2 separate regions of the Homo sapiens genome follow, and region 1 is linked to region 2. A link means that fine-mapping ties the variant in region 2 to the expression of a gene that starts in the linked region. Tissue or cell type: whole blood. Region 2 holds a variant in brackets; the other region holds the start of a gene. All regions are shown on one strand. Distances are between the middles of the regions. Region 1 holds the start of SLC35B3 (solute carrier family 35 member B3). Region 2 has its middle 34 kb from the start of SLC35B3.

Region 1 (11,329 bases), 36 kb before region 2:
TCCCTGGGAGCCATCTTTATTTTTACTCCACACCCACCTGGCCACAGAATTTAGCCTTCTTTAAATTCATCTGAAATAATGCACCTATGCAGGGCATTAATGAACAATGCAGATTTACTGAAGCTTTTTAAGAATATGAAGTGGTGGAATTATAAATCACAGCCTCCATAAAACAACTTAAATACTCCAGTTAGATACAGAACCTATAGTCTCCCAAAAGCTCCCTTCTCAGCCATACCACACTGGTGATTCCCTTTATTCTCTCCCTCCTTCATTTGTTTGTTCTTTCTTTCTTTCCTTCTTTTTTCTTTTTTTTTTTTTTGAGACAGGTCTCACTCTGTCACCCAGGCTGGAGTGCAGTGGTGTGATCTGGGATCACTGCAACCTCCGCCTCCCAAGCTCAAGGGATCCTCCCACCTCAGCCTCCTGAGTAGCTGGGACTATGGGCATGCATCACCACACTCAGCTGATTTTATTTTTGTTTTGTTTGTTTGTTTGTTTTCTAGAGGCAGGGTTTTGCCATGTTACCCAGACTGGTCTTGAACTCCTGGAATCAAGAGATCTGCCTGCCTTGACCTTCCAAAGTACTGGGATTACAGGCAATGTGAGCCACTGCGCCCAGCCTGGATTTTCTCTAGCACTTTAAACTTCATCACCTTCCAAGTGGTGAACAAGAATTAAAGTGCTCTAAAATTCCATTGTCCTGAGTGGTAGATAGTAGTCATATGTGCTACTCTGAGCACTTGAAATGTGGCTGGTCCAAACCAAAATATGCTGGAAGTGTGAAATACACACTGGATTTCCAAGATTTTGTATAAAAAAACAGATGTTAAAGTATTTCATTAACAACTTTTTATATTGATTGCATGTTGAAATGATAATATTTTGGTTATATTGAGTTAAATAAATATATTATTAAAATTAATATCACCTTTTTTTTTTTTTTTTTTGAGACAGAGACTCACTCTGTTGCCCAGGCTGGACTGCAGTGGCATGATCTCAGCTCACTGGAACCTCTGCCTCGCTGGTTCAAGCCATTCTCCTGCCTCAGCCTCCTGAGCAGCTGGGATTACAGGTGCCCGCCACCACGCCCTGTTAATTTTTTTTTATTTTTAGTAGAGATGGGGTTTCACCATGTTGGCCAGGCTGGTCTTGAACTCCTGACCTCAAGTGATTCGCCTGCCTTGGCCTCCCAAAGTGCTGGGATTAGAGGCATGAGCCACCACACCCGGCCTCATTTCACCTTTTTAATGTAACTAGCAGAAAATTTAAAGTAGCTTCCATGGCTTATATTATATTCCTATTGGACAGCACTGTTCTGGAAATAAAAAGAACTTCATGTTAATAAGACTAACCCTCCATGGAAGGCAGTTTAAGAATAATCTTCTAAGAGGCTAATCGAATTACTTCTTACAAAAAGAAAACAAAACACAGAAACTTTGACCAAAAAGGGATTCAAAAGCCAGGTGTTAAACGAGCAAAATATTTCTCCATCTCATTACACATGCTACCTCTTTATGAAGAATTTTGCCCCATGCCAATTATCAGTACTGGGAAAGAAGAGGAGTCATGGCTGGTGTCCAGGTGGCCCAGTTCTGTGAACCTCTATCCATTTAGGAGACAGCAGAGAAAAACTGATAGCCCTGGAAGTCAAGCAACCTACAGGGGAACTGAATCTATAACCACAGCCTCATTAGCATAGCCTATAGCTCCCATTGCATCCTGTAGTTAATACCCTTATCAACACAAATCACACTATAATTACTTGTGTAATTAATTATCTCCACCACACAAGGCTGTGAGCTTTGTGAGGGCAGGGATCCATGTCTGTCTTGTCATCCACATATCCACAATACCCAGTAGCATGCAGAGTAAGTGCTCAATAAGTATTTATTAAATGGATATTTAATGAAAATCAAATTAACTAGTTTTTCTGCTCAGTGCATCTGGAACCATATATCTATCAATGAACTTCCTAGTTTGGAAATGCTATATAACCTATTCCTTATGGAAGAGCTAGAAAAGTGACAACTGATGACTATATATAAATGGATTATTCTAATGATAGTAGGCTATATTAATAAGAATATTAATAGCTAACTTTTACTAAGTGTTTGTCAGGTAATAGGTGTTGTGCTAACCATTTAACCATCTTTAAACATCTTTCACTTACTCATCACTACAATTTACCACATAGGTACTACTGTCATTCCCATTTCACAGATGGGGAGATTGAGACTTAGAGAATTTAAGCAATTTGCACAAAGACACTCAAAGAGCAAGGGGTGGTGCAAGGATTTAAATTTAATCTGACACTAGAACCTGAGACTTAACTATGCAAGATGATTCTTCACAGACACATGACTAAGTAACACCAATTGACACGAACTGACATTGTTGATCACTCCTTCCTCCTTTAAACATTGTCTTCACCTGGCTTTTAGAAGACTGTACATTCCTGGACCCATCCTATGTCAACAGCTGCTTCTTCTAAGTCTCCACTGCTGGTTTCTCTTTCTCGCTCCCCCAAGTCACATGACTTGATTATCTAGGACATCCTAAAATACATAAAAACACCTCCCAAAAATTGCTCCTAGGAAATGGAAGGCATTTATCCATAGGTGCCCATTCCCCATTGGTGGATCATTGCCTGGGGGTGTTAATGCCACCAAACTTCCCAAGGGCCAGGTGTGTGTGTGTGTGTGTGTGTGTGTGTGTGTGTGTGTGTGTGTCAGGAGTGACGGCATCTCAACCCTATCTGAGCACTGTTCCTGAAAAGGATACTTGCTGATGTTCACAAAACAATGTCAGTGTTCTATCAGGCCAATTTCCTCCAGTTGATACAATATATGGTAGGACCAGTGGAATTCCATGGTCGTGTGTCATTGTCACACCTCTTTTACCATAAAGTGTGTCCTTTAGTTGGAGGCAATACATCAGAAAATCATGTGTTTGGGCTGGGTGTGGTGGCTCACGCTTGTAATTGCACCACTTTAGGAGGCTGAGGTGGGCAGATCACTTGAGGTCAGGAGTTCACAACCAGCCTGGCCAACATGGTGAAACCGTGTCTCTACCAAAAATACAAAAAAATTAGCCAGGTGTAGTGGCAGGCACCTGTAATCCCAGCTACTGGGGAGGCTGAGGCAGGAGAATGGCTTGAACCTGGGAGGCAGAGGTTGTGCCACTGCATTCCAGCCTGGGCAACAGAGTGAGACTCTGTGTCAAAGAAGGAAGAAAGGAAGGAAGGAAGGGAGGGAGGGAGGGAGGGAAAGAGAGAAAGAAAGAGGAAGGAAGGAAGGGAGGGAGGGAGGGAGGAGATGGAGGGAAGGAAGGGAAAGAAAGAAAAAAGAAAGGAAGGAAGAAAAAAGAAAAGAAAGAAGGAAAAGAGAGAGAGAAAGGAAAGAGAGAAAGAAAGAAAGAAAAAGGAAGGAAGAGAAAGAAAGAAAAAGAAAAAGGAAGGAAGGAAGAGAAAGAGAAAGAAAGAAAAAGAAAAAGGAAGGAAGGAAGAAAGAAAAAGAAAGAAAAAAAGAAGGAAAGAAAGAAAGAAAGAAAGAAAGAAAGAAAGAAAGAAAGAAAGAAAGAAAAAAGAAAGAAAGAAAGGAAGGAAGGAAGGAAGGAAGGAAGTCAATCAATCATGTGTTTGTAACTCTGTTATATAATGGTACTGGCAGAGGCACCATGAACAAGACCAGTCATATCAAGGGAAGTGTCAGTTCCGTAAGTACAAACCACGGCTCTCTCCAGGAAGGAAGGACTTTTGTGTAATTGCTCTCCTTATGGAATTTACCATCAATCTTTGCTGCTGATGGGCTGGACATCCAAAGAGGCAGTAGTCATATCGGCTTTAGTAAGAAAGAGCCTTAATTGTTGGGCCATGCACATGTCCTCCCCTTAATATCACTAAGAAAGTCCTTGTTGTCATCTGACTGCAAAGTAACCCACTTCCAGAGTTCTGAGGAGCTGCATTCTAGACTTTCTTCTTACATCAAATTTCTTAGCTTGGTTTCCCTCAAAACCTGAGACAACTACTTATGTGGGGACAGGTAATTTGGGATGTGATCCTAGTGAGAAACAATGAGAGAATGGAAGGGAGAATATAGACATAATACAAGAATGTGTTATTGAAGTTGCTGTTGTGAGAAACCAGAACCCAATTTCACTGGGACTTTTTGAAAAACACACAGAATGGCCTACAAAACTATCTTGCTCAAGTGTAAGAAGCAAGAGCATTTATCCATCAGTGACTGTCACCCCTTGGTTGAAGGGCCCCAGATGTGTTGACTTACCAGCACTTCAAAGCTGTGCAGGACAGGAGCTGAGAGAGCTACTGCTGGAATGTGTGAAGTCCGAAGAACCTCAGGGAAGAAAGCAAAGAGGCCTGGTAAATGTGGGAGAGGAGAAGCTGTCAGGGAGAAGAATGTGTAAGATTGCATGAAACTGCCCCCCACAACCAAGTCAGAAATGAGAGGTGATGCTCAGAAGATGTGAATCAAGACACCAAAGGTTTCTGATACTACAGAATTATTAATTTCTTAAAAATTTAAAACCAATTCATAGGACCAGGCGCAGTGGCTCACGCTTATAATCCTAGCACTTTGGGAGGCTGAGGTGGGTGGATCACTTGGGGTCAGGAGTTCGAGACCAGCCTGGTCAATAAGGTGAAACCCCATCTCTACTAAAAATACAAAAATTAGCCGGGCATGGTGACAGGCGCCTATAATCCCAGCTACTCGGGAGGCTGAGACAGGAGAATGGCTTGAACCCAGGAGGCAGAGGTTGCAGTGAGCTGAGATGTGCCACTGCACTCCAGCCTGAGCGACAGAGTGAGCCTCTGCCTCAATCAGTCAATCAGTCAATAAAAAACAATTCATAGCTGCAAGTCTTTAATTTTGTTTACCACGTGGTTATCACAGGAGTAAATGGGAAGTATTGTAAGAGAGTCGATATTTATTAAACACCTACTCTATAATAAGTACTACTCCAGATAGTCTCTCCTACATTTCACATTTGACATGTAAAAATATTTCACTGACATGGTAGTCAGAGAAGAGCCAGGTGACATTTGAGCAGTGACTGGAAAAAAATGAGGAAGCAAGCTCTGTGGACATCTGAGAGGGCAGTGTTCCATGCAGAAGGAACAACAGCTACAAAGCACTGATGCTTGCTGTGCTTGGGGGCAATTAGAAAAGCTCTGAAGTGTAGCTTGGATGTGATCCATCAAGAATAAGTTCAGTCTTAAAAGTCAGGGTAAGAATTTTGAACTTTAATCTGAGTAAAATGGTAAACCGCTAAAAGGTTCTGCACAGAGGAGTGGCATATTCAGGTTCTAATGGGATCACTCCAGCTGCTGAATGCAACTATGTAGAGAAATAAAGGGAATGCAGAAAGCTATGCTCACGGCTACTGCAATTGTCCAGGCATGAGCAGATGGTACCTTGTAACACCTCTTGTACCTTAAGTTGTTTTATACTGCCATTTACTTTCTCATGGAAACCCCTAATTTCTTCAGGACAGGGAGCTCATACGCATAGTTTACGATATGAGCTATACATATGCCCATTTAATAAATACTTGATAAATAACCACCATATAAATGGCTAACAGTAGTACTAAATTCACATTATACAGTGACGATATGGCATCACTGAAAGGTTTTGTCATTTACTATCTCTTTAGGAAATTTAAGTTCTCTAAGCCTTAATTCCAACATTCCTAAGTGTTGCTAACACCAGCCTAACAACGTTGGCAAGTATTAAACGAAAATGTCTACCCAGACCTTTTTTTCTCACCACCAAAGTAGGTGCCTTGCTTTCTTACAAACCCTCGATCCCAATACAAGACACAAATGCTACCCTTTCTGAAGAGTGCCTGTAAAATTTTAAAAGTTGTCCATAACTGACTGGATTCTAACATACATATTAATCCAATTCATCCCTTTCTGGTATTCAAGGCATGCTTTCAAAAATTGTCCATCTTCGTTACAGTAATATTTTCCTTAATTATTCTCTGAAAACAGCTCATCCCCAAACCGTCTTGGTTTTTACGTTATTACATCTCAGTGGTGATGGATGAGGCCCTAAACGCGGGGAAAACCTTTTACAAAAGTTTTGATGGCTGGTCCTCAAGCTTTGAGATTTACCTTCCAAGAATTAAGCAGCACTATCGAAACAATGCTGGCAACATTTTTATGAGGTTGCAAGGACCACGGTTGCTGCAGCTACAGGATGAGTTATAACGTCAGAAGCAACCCAAGCGTTACTTCAGGCCCATCTTCACCGGAGAAGCCCGTATGAATCAGGCAAAAACATAAAAACAGGTTCTGTGACTTTGCCGTATCTCATTTAGATCAAGTAGCACGCAGAAGGAAGACAAGGATTTTAAAATCTGGCTCCAACATTCTCCACTTGGTCGCGTTCTCAAATCTCAGCCCAGGGCCGCTGACGTAAAGTCGCCTCTCTCGTGGGCACCACGGGCTCGAGGGTAGCCGGCAGCTGAAACCCGAGGGGCTTCAGAGGCTTGGAGGCCAGGAGCAGGCAGAGCGCCGATGGGATAATGAGATTCTCCAGCAGATCGGCGCTCACCGACCTACTCCATTTCAGTGGGTAGAGGTAAAGGCTGAAAGGCGACCCTCGCACCGCCCGGCCCACCTAGGCAGTGCCGGCCTAGCGTCTCTACCCCATAGAGCATGCGCGGGAGGTAACGGCCCGCCCGCCACCGGCCACACAGGCCTGTCGGGAGGCGGGGCCACGCGTCTGCGCACGCGCGCAGGGACACATAGGCGGAAGTGGCCTGCGGGCGCCGGAGTTGAGAGTGCTTTCCGGGGAGGCGACCGCCGCGGTGGAAAGTGCAGGAGTGGGCGAGGAGGAGGAGGAAGAGGAGGTGATGGCGACGGACCAGGGGAGGGGGAGATGCTCCGTCTAGCTCAGACGCCACGCAGGCTGCCGTCACCCTTCCGGGTGACATACCGGCCTTGGGGTACGCGTGCCTTCGGGGCCTTTCCTGTGTTTGGGACCCAGATCTCCTCTCCTCCAGAAAACCTTGACACTGCCCATCTTCCTCATCCAGAAGGAGCGTTCGAGGAATGGATGAGGTCGGGATGGAAGAAACGGGTGATTCCCTTTTTTGAAAGAGCGGAAACCGGCCGGGCGGTTTCCAGGGAGGAGCATCTGTTCCTCCTCGCCCGTTTTTCGCCCTCGGGCTGGCGAGAACTCCCTCAGGTCCCAATCCGTGGACTCGCAGGGGTGAGGTGACCTCAAGGGGTCTTTTACGCTGTTCTCGGGGTCTCTGGAGAACTGTCAGTCACCTGGATACCTCTAGACTGTATTTACAGTTAACTGTTTCCTCGTTCCGTGTTTATTAAATAGGGGCACTCCAAGGTACTCTTTTCTCCATTTGGCTTGCAGTAGAATGTGATTGTTCTGGCTGGGCTATTAAGTTTATGGCATAAACTTCCACTAGAAGTTCTGCAAGTTTCCTCCAGTCTTTGCAACTGAATTATCTCTCCCGTCTTTTTATTATTTAAGGAATATTGAAAGTAAAAGATGGAATGATTTGGTGCGCTAACAAAATCTTAAGTGTTGAGTATCTGCATTTTTTCTACATTAGGATATCAGAAGCCTAGAATTGTTTTTTGATTAAACGTTTTTCTAAGTGAATTGAGATAGTTTGGAACTTGGAAGAGAGGCAGCATTTCAAAATAATTTAGACAGCGTTATTTTTACTTAATTACTTAATATATAAAGTCCTAGTGTTAACTTTTTCTCTTGGAAAAAAAAAAGAATAGTCTTCAAACATTAGCACAGGGTTTCTCCACCTTTGTGTAATGATGTGTGTACAAAGAAATGAGATGGAACTTTGTTTTTTCTGTTTTATAATCGTACACCATAGGCCATGATTGATTCCGGAGCGCAGTTAATCAAGGCATAATGGCATGGTAAGATTCTTTTATTTGTAACGTTGAGTGTGGCAAAGTATAGTTAAAATCACGTTTTTTCAGGTTAATGACACCGTAATGACTTTTTTTTCATATTCTACCTTTTTTTGGTGTGGGACTTTTGTCCTTCAGGTCGGAAAACTCAAAAATAAACTGAAATAATTGTGACTTCAATAGGTCATTGTAACTCAACATTATCACTAATTTTAATTTTTAAATATACATTGTATGCCGGAAATGCTACCTTTTTATTCCATTTTAGCAGTTGAAGTTGAATATCTGTGTTGAATTTAGGAAGAGGCCTCAGGCAATTATACACACCTGTGATTTTTAAAATATATATATATATATTTTAGTTTCACTGATTACTGTGAGCTTCAAAAGCAAAGCACAATGTTGATCATTTAGTCTGAAAACTAATTTTAATTCCATGCTTCATTTTTGCTCCTTGCATCACAAGGAGTTTGGCCCATTTTTTTTTTTAGATGATGGTTAGTATCAGTCATTAATGTTTGAAGTGGAAGGGATATGGCAGACATTCCCCAATGATCACAGTTATTAGGTATCAGAGGTCTTTATCAGTCACACTTTCTCACCAGTGATGTTCTTATTAATAAAACAGCATTCTAAATGCAAGGCTTTGGTGGGCAAGTTTTATGAGACTGATGCCTCAGGCAGAGGAAACAAATTTATTTTCATGTTCATTTCAAATGTTTTGTGGGGAGTTTCAGTAGCAATGTCGGTATTTTGGCATACATGTAGAAAAGACAGTGCTAGAGAGATTTCATTCTGCACATATGGCCTAGATCTGCAGCACATAAAGTTGCCAAGAAGTGTATTAGAAGTGGTAAAGTGTTGGAAAGGAGCTGAATAACGTTGATTAAATAAATGGTGCTTGCTAAACTGTGGTAGAGTCCTTCATTTAATCTTACATTTTTGTTATGTGCCAGAACATCATAGGAAGATATCTCTTGCCTTAAGGATTTCATAGGCTTTTAGGAGAAACAAGTATAAAAACGAAAAAGCTATACCATTATCATTTAGGAATTTGAAAAATATGTATAATATGATTGAGTCCAGGACATCAACTCGTTTTTAACTTCGAGGCCTTATTCATGGATGCAGCATGATCAGACTTCACGTTGAGCCATGTGACAGATGGGTCAGAAAGGGAAGAATTGATTATAAACAGTCTCGTAATCTAGGCAAGAGAAAATGGCTGCCTGATGGAGTAGGGTCCGAAACAGATATTAGATATAGTTATAGAGGTAGAGTTAACAGGAATCTTGGCAAAATATAGAATGTGAGGAAAAGGAAAGATTCTTAAGATGACTCCCAGATTTTTAGCTTGTGTTTCATACTAGGTACTGTTAAGTGAGATTGGGAATATAGGAACAAACAGTAGATTTGTTTTGAGGGGAAAATAATCAGCTTTGGCCATTTTAAATATGAAGTGCCAGCAGAGCTTATGAGTAGAGGTATCAAAGAAGCATTTAGACGTAGAGCTCTGGATCTCAGGAGAGAAGGCAGCGTTGGAAATTCAGGTCTGTATTTCCAGCTGCACATCAAAGGGGTGAGTCAGCTTGAGCACACCATATCACCCTAGCAATATTTCTAAAAAGTTGAAGGATGACAGCTAACACACTTATGGACTGTCATATGCCAGGCAATTTTACATTTATTTCATATAGTCCTAACCAAAATCCTGTGATAGGCACATTTTTAACTCCTCCCACTTTTGAAGGTGCAGAACCTAAAGCTCAGAAAAGTTAAACGATTTGCCCAAGGCTCCTCAGCTAATAAGTAGTAAAGCCAGATCTTGAACTCATATCTGTCAAAATTCCAAAGCATGGGGAAAGCATTATGCTATACTGCTTTCTTATACTATTACCTATAATTGTATTGAGTCATTACAATATGCTTGGCAGTTTACTAAATTACAAACATCTCAGAAGAAGGTGACTTTGGGAAAGCGTGACCTTCTGGAGAAATGTTTTGATGCCAATAAAAGCAGGAAAGAAAGATATTTTCTAGAAGTTTTATTTATTCTGTATGTATGTGTAAATATGTAAGCATTATTTGTAAATTTTCCCCACTCTTTTTCTATAAGATTTTCAGTTTTGCTCATAAAGTTTGCCAGTACCACCATCCATTTCAAAAATCGTATCCAAGCAGAAGGTGAGTGATTGCAAGCTGAAGTTTGAGGGTATCAAGAGGAAGGATCAGTTTATTTGGTTCATCTGAATATCAGGTCAGAGTATATGCCAGGTACCAAGGACACAGAGACAAATAAGATTTGAATCTTGCCTTTCAAGTTCTCTTTTCTAATAACTGGGGGGATTAGTGATGGTGTCACAAAGGAGGGGATATTAAAGCTGAACTTCCAAACCTGACCTTGAGAAAGAAGACCTCAGGCTGAAAGGACATCATGAACAGAAGGCAGCGGTGTTTTAAAGTCCCTGGTGTATTTCAGGAATGAAACATGGGTGGTTTAGGGCTTTATTGAGAGTGGAGGGAGAGCAAACTTAGAAACCTATGTAAGGCCGGGTTTATTTGAATGGTGCACTATATCCATGCTCACACATAGAAAAGAGTAAATTGTTAAGGTTTTCGTCTCTTCTACATTCAAGCACAGGTTTGACCAAATATTTAGGAGAGATAATTTAAAGCATGGTTTTAAAAGAAAGTCACATCTCAAAGATACCCTGCAAGATTACATAAAAAGTCTTACAAATGACAGTGATTGAAACATAATGTGGGAAGCAAGAACAAAGGAAAGTGAAGAATAAACAAGAGGAACACAGTAAACTTCATGAAACAACTTTTCTATTTAGAAATAAGGCAGGTGCCCTATAAAATGTTGTGGTGGCTGCATATTTTTAGTTACAAGTGGTATTCAGATCCTTGACCCCTCCTTTAATTCCTAAGGATGACCTGGTTAACCTCTGTAAATTAGCAAACTAGAAGTGATCATGAAGAGGCGACTCTAATTTTGGCCATTTTAAGCCATCTTGTAACAGTTTAAAAAAACATTACCAAAGGAAAACTCACTGTCAAAATTATTCTTATTTCTCTTCGTGCCGCAGAGTTTAAATTTTTGTTCCCACTGGAATTAAAAACAGATGAGTCGTTTCTAAGAAAATAACTTTTTCTTTTACATAGGTTTATTCTATACTTTGTCATAATTCTTCAGTCTTTCCTCAGTCTTTACATGGAGTTCATTTTTTCAGTTTATATAAATCCAAAGAGAAATTGATGGCTTCATAATTTTTTTTAGACTGACAAAAAATGACATGTTTTCTCCAGCCTTTTACATCCCAGAAGAATGTAAATTAAAATGATTTGTTCCAGAGGAAGAAAACATTTTTTAACCTAAGAGATGCTACTGCTGAAGCA
Region 2 (11,329 bases):
CACATGTCCATTACATTGATGGCATTATGCTGATTGGATCCAGTGAGCAAGAAGTAACAAACACACTGGACTTATTGATGAAACATTTGCATGCCAGAGGATGTGAAATAAATCCAACTAAAATTCAGGGACCTTCTACTTCAGTCAAATTTCTAGGGGTCCAGTGGTGTGGGGCCTGTGGAGATATTCCTTCTAAGGTGAAGGATAAGTTGCTGCATTTCCACCCCCCCACACTCCCCAACCAAGAAAGAGGCACAGGTCCTAGCAGGTGTATTTGGATTTTGGAGGCAACACATTCCTCATTTGGGTGTGTTAGTCTGGCCCATTTATCGAGTGACCCAAAAGGCTGCCAGTTTTTAGTGGGGTCTAGAACAGGAGAAGGCTCTGCAACAGGTCCAAGCTGCTGTGCGAGCTACTGTGCCACTTGGGCCACATGACCCAGCAGATCCAATGGTGCTTGAGATGTCAGTGGCAGACAGGGATGCTGTTTGGAGCCTTTGGCAGGCTCCCATGGGTGAATCACAGCAGAGGCCTCTAGGAACAAGGCCCTGCCATCTTCTGCAGATGACTACTCTCCTTTTGAGAGACAGCTCTTGGCCTGTTACAGGGCTTTGGTGGAAACTGAATGTTTGACTATGAGTCATCAAGTCACCATGCGACCTGAACTGCCTATCAAGAACTGGGTGCTTTCTGACCCATCTAGCCATAGAGCAGGTCGTGTACAGCAGTATTCCATCATCAAATTGAAGTGGTATATATGTGATTGGATTTGAGCAGGTCCTGAAGGCACGAGGAAGTGGCTCAAATGCCCATGGTCTCCACTCCTGCCACCCTGCCTTCCCTCCTCCAGCCTGCATCGATGGCCTCATGGGGAGTTTCCTATGATCAGTTGACAGAGGAAGAAAAGACTAGGGTCTGGTTCACAGATGGTTCTGCAGAATATGCAGGCACCACCCAAAAGTGAACAGCGGCAGCACTACAGCCCCTTTCTAGGACGTCCCTGAAGGACAGTGGTGAAGGAAAAATCTTCCCAGTGGGCAGAACTTCTAGCAATGCACCTGGTTGTGCACTTTGCATGGAAGGAAAAATGGCCAGATGTAGGATTATATACTGATTCATGGGCTGTAGCCAACCGTTTGGCTGGATGGTCAGGGACTTGGAAGAAGCATGATTGGAAAATTGGTGACAAAGAAATTTGGGGAAGAAGTATGTGGAGGGACTTCTCTGAATGGTCAAAAACTGTGAAGATATTTGTATCCTATGTGAGTTCTCACCAACAGGTGACCTCAGTGGAGGAGGAATTTAATAATCAAGTGGATAGGATGACCCGTTCTGTGGACACCACTCAGCCTCTTTCCCCAGCCTCCCCTGTCATCATGAACAAAGTGGCCACGGTGACAGGGATGGAGGTTACTCAGGGGCTCAGCAACATGGACTTCCACTCACCAAGGCTGACCTTTCTATGGCCACTGCTGAGTCCCAAATTTGCCAGCAGCAGAGACCAACACTGAACCCTAGATATGACACCATTTCTCAGAGTGATCAGCCAGCTACCTGGTGGCAGGTTGATTATATTGACCCCTTCCATCATGGAAAGGGCACAGGTTTGTCCTCACTGGAATAGACATTTACTCTGGATATGGGTTTGCCTATCCTTCACGTAATGCTTCTGCCAAGACTACCATCCGTGGACTCATGGAATGCCTTTCCACTGTCATGGTATTCCACCCATCACTGCCTCTGACCAAGGCACTCACTTTACAGCTAAAGGAGTGTGGCAGTGGGCTCATGCTCATGGAATTCACTGGTCTTACCATGTTGCCCATCTTCCTGAAGCAGATGGATTGATAGAAGGTGGAATGACCTTTTGAAGTCACAATTACAACACTAACTAGGTGACAATACTTTGCAGGTCTGGGGCAAAGTTCTCCAGAAGTCTGTGTATGCTCTGAATCAGTATCCAATATATGGTACTGTTTCTCCCATAGCCAGGATTCATGGGTCCAGGAATCAAGGGATGGAAGTGGAAGTGGCACCACTCACCATCACCCCTAGTGATCCACTAGCAAAATTTTTGCTTCCTGTTCCGGCGACATTACGTTCTGCTGGCCTAAAGTTCTTAGTACCAGAGGGAGGAATGCTGCCACCAGGAGACACAACAACGATCCATTAAACTGGAAGTTAAGATTGCCACCTGGACACTTTGGGCTCCTTCTACCTTTAAGTCAATAGGCTAAGAAGGGACTTACAGTGTTGGCTGGGGTGATTGACCCGGACTATCAAGATGAAATCAGTCTATTACTCCATAAGAGAGGTAAGGAAGAGTATGCATGGAATACAGGAGATCGGTGCCTCTTAGTATTACCATCCCCTGTGATTAAAGTCAATGGGAAACTACAACAGCCCAAGCCAGGCAGGACTACAAATGGTCCAGACCCCTCGGGAATGAAGATTTGGGTGACTTCACCAGGAGAAAAGCCACAATCTGCTGAGGTGCTTGCTGAAGGCAAAAGGAATACAGAATGGGTAGTAGAAGGTAGTCACCAATACCAGCTACGACCACATGACCAGCTACAGAAACGAGGACTGTAACTGTCATGAATATTTCCTCCTCCTTTTGTTAAAAACATGTTTATGCATGTATACACTTGTACTAAGAAAATATCTTCATTTTATTTCCTTTTCCTTTATCATGTGATGTAAGATTATTGACTTCATATCAGCATTTAAGTATTGTTAACTTTATGCAATAGTATTTGGGTTGGGGATTGGTGCATTTCCAGTTGTATGAAGGATAGTTGTATTATGTTAGGCATAATTATGACATTATTGTCTTTATTTGAAGATTATGTATGATCTCAGGAGATGTGTATGGGTTCAAGTTGACAAGGGGTAGACTTGTGATGGTTAATACTGAGTGTCAACTTGATTGGATTGAATGATGCAAAGTATTGATCCTGTGTGTGTCTGTGAAGGTGCTGCCAAAGGAGATTAACATTTGAGTCAGTGGGCTGGGGAAGGAAGACCCACCCTCAATCTAGTGGGTACCATCTAATCAGCTGCCAGCAAATATAAAACAGGGAGAAAAATGTGCAGGACTGCCCTAGCCTCCCAGAAAAACGCGAGACTGACCTAGCCTCCCAGCCTACATCTTTCTCCCATGCTCTCCTGCCCTGGAACATCAGACTCCAAGTTCTTCACTTTTGGAACTTGGACTGTCTCTCTTTGCTCCTCAGCCTGCAGACAGCCTTTTGTGGGACCTTGTGATCATGTAAGTTAATACTTAATAAACTCCCCTTTTCATATATATATAATATATAAATATATATTATACATAAATATATATAATATACTCATATATATAATATACATATATATTTTATATATATATATATATATATATATATATATATATATATATATATATATATCCTATTAGTTCTGTCCCTCTGAGAGCCCTGAGTAATACATGTGACATTTGACCTAACTCTGGGTAGTTAGGATCAGAATTGTACTGCAGGCATTATGCTTGTTAGCTATCATTAAAGAACTATTAGCATTGTCTGAACTGTTATCAAATGCTTTTAGTTTTCCCAAGTGTTTTTTACCTTAAACCTACTTTATATTCTAGATTTTGAACCCACTTTACATTCTAGATTCTTATTTGATCAGTAAGCCTAAAATTTTAGTAAAACTTGACCAGTAATGGGCCAGTAATGTGGCTTAGCACACTGCAAATATGTATGCATTACAAAATCACATTTACTCTTATATACATAGTTGCAAACACTAGTTTCCATGTCCTTATGATGCATCACCCTCCTGGTACATCCATGTGTTCAAGCCAGGGAAGCTCTCCCAAGTCTTGGTATATGGTTTTTATTGGAGTTTCACTATACAGCCCATAGGATTGATTAAATCAGTGGCCATGTGACTGAACTTTATCTTCAGCTGTCCTTCCTTCCCCAGAGGTTGGGTTGGTATTGCATGGCTCAAAGTCCCAAACCTCATGGCTCAAAGTCCCAAACCTCATGGCTCAAAGTCCCAAGCCTACGGTCACATCATTAGTCTTTCCAGCATGGCCAGCCCCAACTCTAAAACTAATTACATGGTTATCAAATCATCAGGTTATACATTGTGACACTCAAAACCTTTGCTGTGTGTTTTCTTCCTGATTAAACACTTGATAAGTTTTCTGTATTATGTGTTTGAGCAAAAATATTTTACATTTTCACTTATTCTGCTTTATTGTCCCTATTGACTGTCCCTATACTTGCCCATTGAACCAGCTGTCTTAACATTTGTAAACAGCTAATGTAGCCTCACTGATATGACTGCTCTATTTTTACTATAATGTCATTTATTCATTCATCTTCACTGGGCCAAATATGAGCCAGGCATTATACTAGATGCTGAGGATGCAAAAAGAATAAACTATAACCCGTACTCTTGAAAAACTTCCAATCTATGGAAGATTTGCTATGATTGTTATATAAAAACACATCACATTAACCCTAAGTTTTCAGAATATTTCGCCATGGTGGTAGTACTTCTAAAACCTCAGTGTGCACATGTACCACCTAAGGATCTAGTTTTTTAAAAAGAAAAAACAAAGGATTTGAATTCAATAGGGTTGGGTGGGGCATGAGATTTTGTTCTAACATACTTCCAAGTGATGCTAATGTTGCTGGTCCATGGACCATACCTGGAGTGTCTAGGGTGTAGCATACAAACTTTCAGAAGTTTTCAATATCAGGACATCTGAAATTATCAGAATAATTTTCACCCAAGTTTGTTCCATTTGCTTTTCAAACTTCACATTCTCGGTGGCCTGCCCTAGCAAACTGAACAGCAATCTTATGTTGGAGAGTTGCTGGCATAAGCAGAAAGAGTTTTTTAATCATTGTAGGTGTTTGAAAGATTTAATATTCATGACTTTCTCTATAAATGTTACCTTTTTAAAAATCTTCATGAAAGTAAGATAAACCTGTAATTCTCTTCCAGTCATGGTCTGTTGTTTTAATTTCATGGCATGTAGTTAAGATAGTTTTTATGCTATTTTGTAGTGACATTATGAAGAAAATGTTCACATCAATGATTTACTGCTGTTTCAGAATGAACTGTGAATTACAGGGGTTTAGGGAAGTAGGTCTTAACACTTAAGGGATTCTTCTGAGTCTAATCACAAAAATGTGTTTTATTAAATATCTTAATCCTATGATAACCCCCCACATTTCTAAAACATAATTAGACCATTTTAATCAGTTTTTACACAATTGATAAGATTTAAATAGATAAGTAAAGAAATGTGGATAATTTTTCACTATAGAAAATAATAGCAATAAGACTTTGGAGTCTGATTATTCTAGATCTCATTATAGGGCTCTTCCCCAATTATTTTTCTCCTAGTACCAGTTACAGTGACAGAAATAAAAAGCAGATCAATTAAAATGTTTATTGTGTTTCATTTCTGACTCAACAGTGTATAAGCACTTAGGAATTGGTTGGGGCACTTAGGAATTGATTTTTTTCATACATTCCAAAATTCAATGATAGATAGACCTCAATTGTAATTGTTTAGAATAATTTTTGTATATAAACCAGAGACATTTCATAAACACAGGTAATCATCTTTTTCTCTAGTTTCTAACTATATTTTAATTGATGATGTTGGTCTACAATATCTGTGTTAAGCACCACAGAATCATAAAATCTCAGGACTGTTTGGATGCTTGGCCACCTTTCTTTAAATCAAAGAAGACATTTGAAATGTCTGCTCTTAAGAAGGTTTGATCTAACAGGGTGAGGCTGGGGGAATTTACTGTAAGATGTGTATGAACCATAGCTAGTTTGAATCATCCATAGCCAGTTTGAGTCATAGAGATGTCCATCTCTAAACAACTGGAGTTATGCTGGATTCAGGAGAAGCATAGAACCAGGTGTGCGGCTGCACTGTTTACATAGGTGATTGATTAGGCCTAACTAGGTCCATGGCTAGGGCACCAGTAAGAGTGTAGATTCACAGGCTGATAGTCCCACACTGAATTAAGAGATTTATTGTTTTAAATG[T/C]CCTAGCTATTTGGTAAATTCTGCAAGCTAATCTTACTAACATACACTTTATTTGTTCAGTTATTTCTTAGCAGTTTGCCATTCTCATAAAACTGAAGCGTGGGTAGTGATTTTTTTTTTCATAATTCTAAGGGGTTATCTGTTAACACAGTTTCTAGGAATATCTAATAGTTTGATTATTTTTTCTCCTCCACCTCTGGGACTCCTATACATGTTGGCAGTTCTACTTTCATCTACATATCCCTAAGCTATTCTCTTATGGTTTCCATCTCTGCTGTTTCTTGCTGCTTCTGAGAGAGTTTCTCAGTCTGGGCTTTCAGTGTACTAATTTGTTCATCTGTTCAACCTGCTGTTTATCTCCTTTGTCATGGTCGTGTTTTTTATATTTCAACCCTTATGTATTCAGACCTAATATTTCTACCTGGATTTTTAAAACGATTTATTGGTTTTGCTTTATGCTACCAGTATTGTTCCTAATTGTGTTATTTTTTATCATGGTTATTTTAAATTCTTGGACTCTCTTCTAATCATTCTGTTTTCAATGGTAGATATTTTTCAGTTGTCTTTTTTTTTTTTAACAGTAATTACACACTTTAGCATAGCCATTGGCAGTTTCTCTCCAAGCCTTCTCACTGCCTTCTGCACCTTGCTGCCTTCTGTGTTTCTAGTCTATAACTCCAAGATTAAAACAGCCTCAGTCTCCCCAGAACATCTCACTTTTGGTATTGTTTTGTTTTTTCCTAGAATTCACATCTGTCTGTCTGAATCAGTATGTCTGTCTTCCTCTCTCTCTCTCTCTCTCTCACTGTCTCTCACCCTCTCTCCTATCCTTTCTCCCTACCACGCCACCCTCCCCCATCTCCTAGTTCCTCTAGGATTGTTTTTGGAAGAAACCAGCAGCCTATCCTAGCTCACCATCTTGACAGGAGCCAAAACTCATTAAAAGAGAATTTCTCCCAACTCTTTGTCTTAGTGATTTATACTACTAATGATTCTCAGATTTGCCTTTCTAATACAAATGAAAACTTGCTGGCCGCTATCTTGATGCAATCTATTTCAGAAATATTGGTTCATTTACCAGTTTTAATTGGTAAAATTCAAATTTTGGAAGTAAGATTTGTAATGTTTTATTACAAATCTAATTACTAATTTAAATGTAATTTTGAAATATTTTACTAACTTAAATATAGATTTCAAATCTTCTAGGAGAAGACTAACAGAAATATAAAACAGAATTCAGTCCTAAAATATGTCTCATATTATGGCTAATTAGGTAAGATTGTTTTTAATACATAGGCATAATTGTTTGTGATAGGAAAACTTCACCATAAAGCTTTGATTATTTGAGATGGTACCAATTAGTATACTTTGTAAAATTTCCTAATTTTGCTATTGTCTAATGCATATCATTTGTACAAAGTGATTTGAAACAGGCAGGGAAGCAGTAGTTTGTATTTTGAAGACATGGAAACAGACCTCAAGAAGACAAGTGATGTACCCAAGGTTCACACATAGTAAATGGCATAATGCACCTAAATCGGTTTCTTTGACTCTGATGCCTAGCTGATAACCCACCACTCCTCAACTCCTGCTCTTTCCAGCCACAACAGCACCAGGTTAGGACTGGCATCCTCTCCAGCTGTTTGTGTCCTCTCAAAATCCTGACACTGCCTTCCTTCTCAGGACCATGTAAAGGGAGCAAGACTTTTTCCAAGGAAGGACTTTTGTGGACACTCCTGCTGTCATACTTACTAACCCACCTAAGAAGATTAGCATCTTGAACCAGGCTTTAAGAGAATGCACAGAGGTGAAAGAAGAAGGGATTTCCTGCCTGACATCCCCAGTCAGCCAAATCGACCTGTGCTTGAGTGAGATGGCCTATATAGGTAGACACTTCAAGTCATCTACCAGCAGGTAATGGGACTCAACCATAAAGAGAGGTGTTGAAACGGGGCAACTGGGAGTAAGGGATAGAATCCAAGGACCAGTCAGGATTTTACGTTGAATTAAAGTGAGATACTTTGTAAAGCAGCCAAGGCAAATGTAGTCAAGACAGAGAGGACATCACTGGAAGTACAAGGCAAGACAGAAGCTTAATCTTGGGGAAAAAAAATAGAGTGTAGGCGTCAAAGTCAGAGAAGAAGCAAAGGGAATCTGGCTTGCTTAGCTGTGAACTCCTAGGTCATTTTGTCTCTCTTAGCAAGAGATCCAGTTGGGACTACAGATGGTCCCCAATTCACTGTGGTTCAACTTTTGATTTCTTGGCTTAATGATCAAGAATGTGTGAAAGCAACATACATTCTGTAGAAACTGCACTTCGAGTACCCATACAACCATTCTATTTTCACTTTCAGTACAGTATTCAATAAATTACACTGACTATTTAACACCTTATTATAAAATAGACTTTGTGCTATATGACTTTGCCCAACTGTAGACTAATGCAAGTATCTAAGCACGTTTATGGCAGGCTGGGCTAAGCTATGATGTTCCGTAGGTCAGTTGCAGTAAGTGCATTTTCAAATTAGGATATTTTCAACTTATGATGGGTTTATAAGGATGTAACCTGTCATAATTCGAGGAACACCTATAAACTTAAAGCTGGAGCAGGGATTAAAAATAATTAACACTGGAAATTTTTAAAATATGGGATCTAAGTGCCAGATCAGAAGTTGTACTTAAGGATTTTATGTGCCTCTCCTGTGTTAGCTGGAAATGTCACCACAATAAGAAAGAGGAGACTCTAGAATTAGGAAGAAATACTTCTGAATTACTGTCAGTAATATGATAACAGTTAGCATAAATTGCTTGATTTTACTGTGCTTCACTCACCACACTGAAAATGGGGTGATTAAAAATACCTTCTTGATAGAATTGAGTTTTCTTCTTTATGATAGTTTTGTTAATAAGTGATATGTAATTTGAAATTATAATATTCAAAATTCAAATTCCATGATCCTAAGCCTTTCTAAGCATACAACTTTGCTTATGAATAGACAAGACTGTTCAAATGATGTGGCTATAATAGCAGAAGGCTTTATTATGACCTTATGAACAGACATTTCCTGGATGGCAGAGCACTATCATAAAGGGTCCAGCTCTATTTCTATGTGAGTGAACACAAGTCCACTCAATAGTTCCATCTAAACTAACTCTTTCAGAAGGGTTAATAGTAACACTCCATGGACCCACTTGACCTCTCCACTTAATTTTGAAAAGTATGAATTATCCACTATTGTAGCAACCACTGAGAAAATCATAAGCTTTCCTTTCCATTTTTTTTCCTGTGACAGCCATTGACCAAATATGTATTGAGCAATTTGCAAGTCTCTTCAGAGATATGTAAATACATATCTATGTTTATGAGATAGATTATATATCTGCCTCACAACTCCTTCACTTAATTATCTCAAAGTTTAGTGAGAAGCAGGCATAGAGTTATGGTGCGTTAATTTCTATAATGTGAATGTATATGAAGTGTAATAGGACTATTCTGAAAGACTTTTTCTAAGAGGTAGCATTTAAGCAAGTCCAGGTAAGACATCGTGAGGATCTAAATACACACTCAGGCATTGGAGCTGGTGAGGATGGAACCAATAATAGGGATATCTAGAGGGTAATTGATAGGGAGGGGATGAGGGAGAGGAAGCATCTTAGAATGACTTTTGCAGTTCTGACTTGGAAAACTGGATGAATGTTACTTGCTGAGATACACAATTCAGGAGAAAGAGTGTATTTGCTGTTGGGGAGAGCAAGTTGAAGCATAGTTTGGACATGACTGAGTTTAAAGTCTTACTTTGGAACCTCCAGATGAACAATTTCAGAAAGCAATGATAATATGTAGTTTGAGAGGCCTGGGAATCTGGATTCGGGAGTTAAAATAATGAGCATGAGTAAGATTGTCAATGTTGTTTTTTTAAGTGAAGAGAGTGTTTACAAAGCCTGAGGAACACTGATGTTTAGTGGTGAACAGAGCAAGAGGGACCTGCACAGGGGCTGAAAATGAGAAGTCAGAGAAGGAGAAAAGCGTGATCTCAAGGAGCCAAAAGAAGGAGAAACAGGTCAAAAGGGAGGAAGTTGTCAGTGCCGTTTTTGAGATACATGAAAAAATTTTTAAACATGATCAGCATAAAGATGGATTTATAACAATTAGATTTCTTTACTGACCCTAGATTCTTTATAATGCAAACAAATATTTACCATATTCTAATTTTTTCTTTAATTACAAAATAGAATTTTTGAAAAAGATAAAAATGTATTTTATACTAATCATATGTGAATTCAAGATATTTAAAAAGAATATAGACTTTCTGTACAAACAGCCCTAATTTGAATTCCAGCTTCATAATTAACCTGGAGCAAATTAGTTACCTTCTCATTTTCTTCATCCAGAAAAATGGAATTAGCACACCTTTACAAGGTGATTTTGAAGATCAAACAAAAAATGCACATAAAAGAACAGCCTATTTTTTATAAACATTTATTATGTTTTAAGCATCTATTTTAAGAAGTGAGGAAAATATTCAGCAAATGAAGCCCAAAGAAAGCAGAAAGAAGTATGTAATAAGAGCAGAAATTAAATAGTAAATAAAAATATACAATTAAAAAAATTAAGGCCAGGCCCAGTGGCTCACCCCTGTGACCTCATACTTTTGAGAGGCCAAGGTGGGAGGATTGCTTGAGACCAGGAGTTTGAGACCAGCCTGGGCAGCATAATGAGACCCCATGTCTAGAAAAAATAAGAATTTTTTTTTTTAAATCAGCAGGGCACAATGGTGTATGCCTGTAGTCCCAGCTCCATGGAATGCTGAGGCAGGAGCATCATTTGAGCCCAGGAGATCAAGACTAAAATAAGCTGTGATTGTGCCACTGCACTCCAGCCTGGGTGATAGAACGAGACTCTGTCTCAAACAAAAAAAAAAAAAAAAAAGAAAAGTTGATTTTTTTTTTAAGAATTAAAATTAATAAACTTCTGGGTTGTCTGATCATGAAATTAAGAAGATAAAAATGTGTAGTATACCTGAAATGAAAAAAGGATATTACTGCATGTTCTATGAACATTTAGGAAGAAGAAAAGAATATCTTAAAGCATTTTATGCCAATAAATTTGAAAATTTAGATAAGAACAACTAATTTCTACAAAAATACAGTCTACCAAAACTGACATAGGAAAACACAAAATTTGAATAGTTCCATATATGTAAGTACCTACAAAAAAACCTACTGTAAGCATGATATTTAATGATAAGTTATAGAAAGT

What was found. PIP is the estimated chance that this variant, and not a neighbour inherited with it, causes the effect.
Region 1: SLC35B3 starts here. The variant in region 2 is fine-mapped to the expression of SLC35B3 in whole blood (TOPMed, PIP above 0.99).

Annotation. Positions count from the first base shown.
Region 1 is chr6:8,430,989-8,442,317 of GRCh38, reverse strand. It overlaps SLC35B3 (solute carrier family 35 member B3), which reads left to right and starts at 6,773. Exons shown (of 10, transcript NM_001370479.2): 1 at 6,773-6,975. It overlaps LOC100506207 (a long non-coding RNA gene), which reads right to left and starts at 6,695. Exons shown (of 5, transcript NR_038980.1): 1 at 6,140-6,695; 2 at 4,287-4,378. RefSeq lists enhancers at 6,376-6,465, 6,546-6,625, 6,566-6,735, 6,936-6,995, 6,492-7,033 and 2 more.
Region 2 is chr6:8,395,409-8,406,737 of GRCh38, reverse strand. No RefSeq gene overlaps it. Among named protein-coding and RNA genes, the nearest start is that of SLC35B3, 34 kb to the left of the region's middle. RefSeq lists enhancers at 174-343, 1,440-1,609, 2,130-2,299, 9,103-9,272 and a cis regulatory region at 2,214. The variant T/C (reference allele first, on the strand shown) is at 6,070.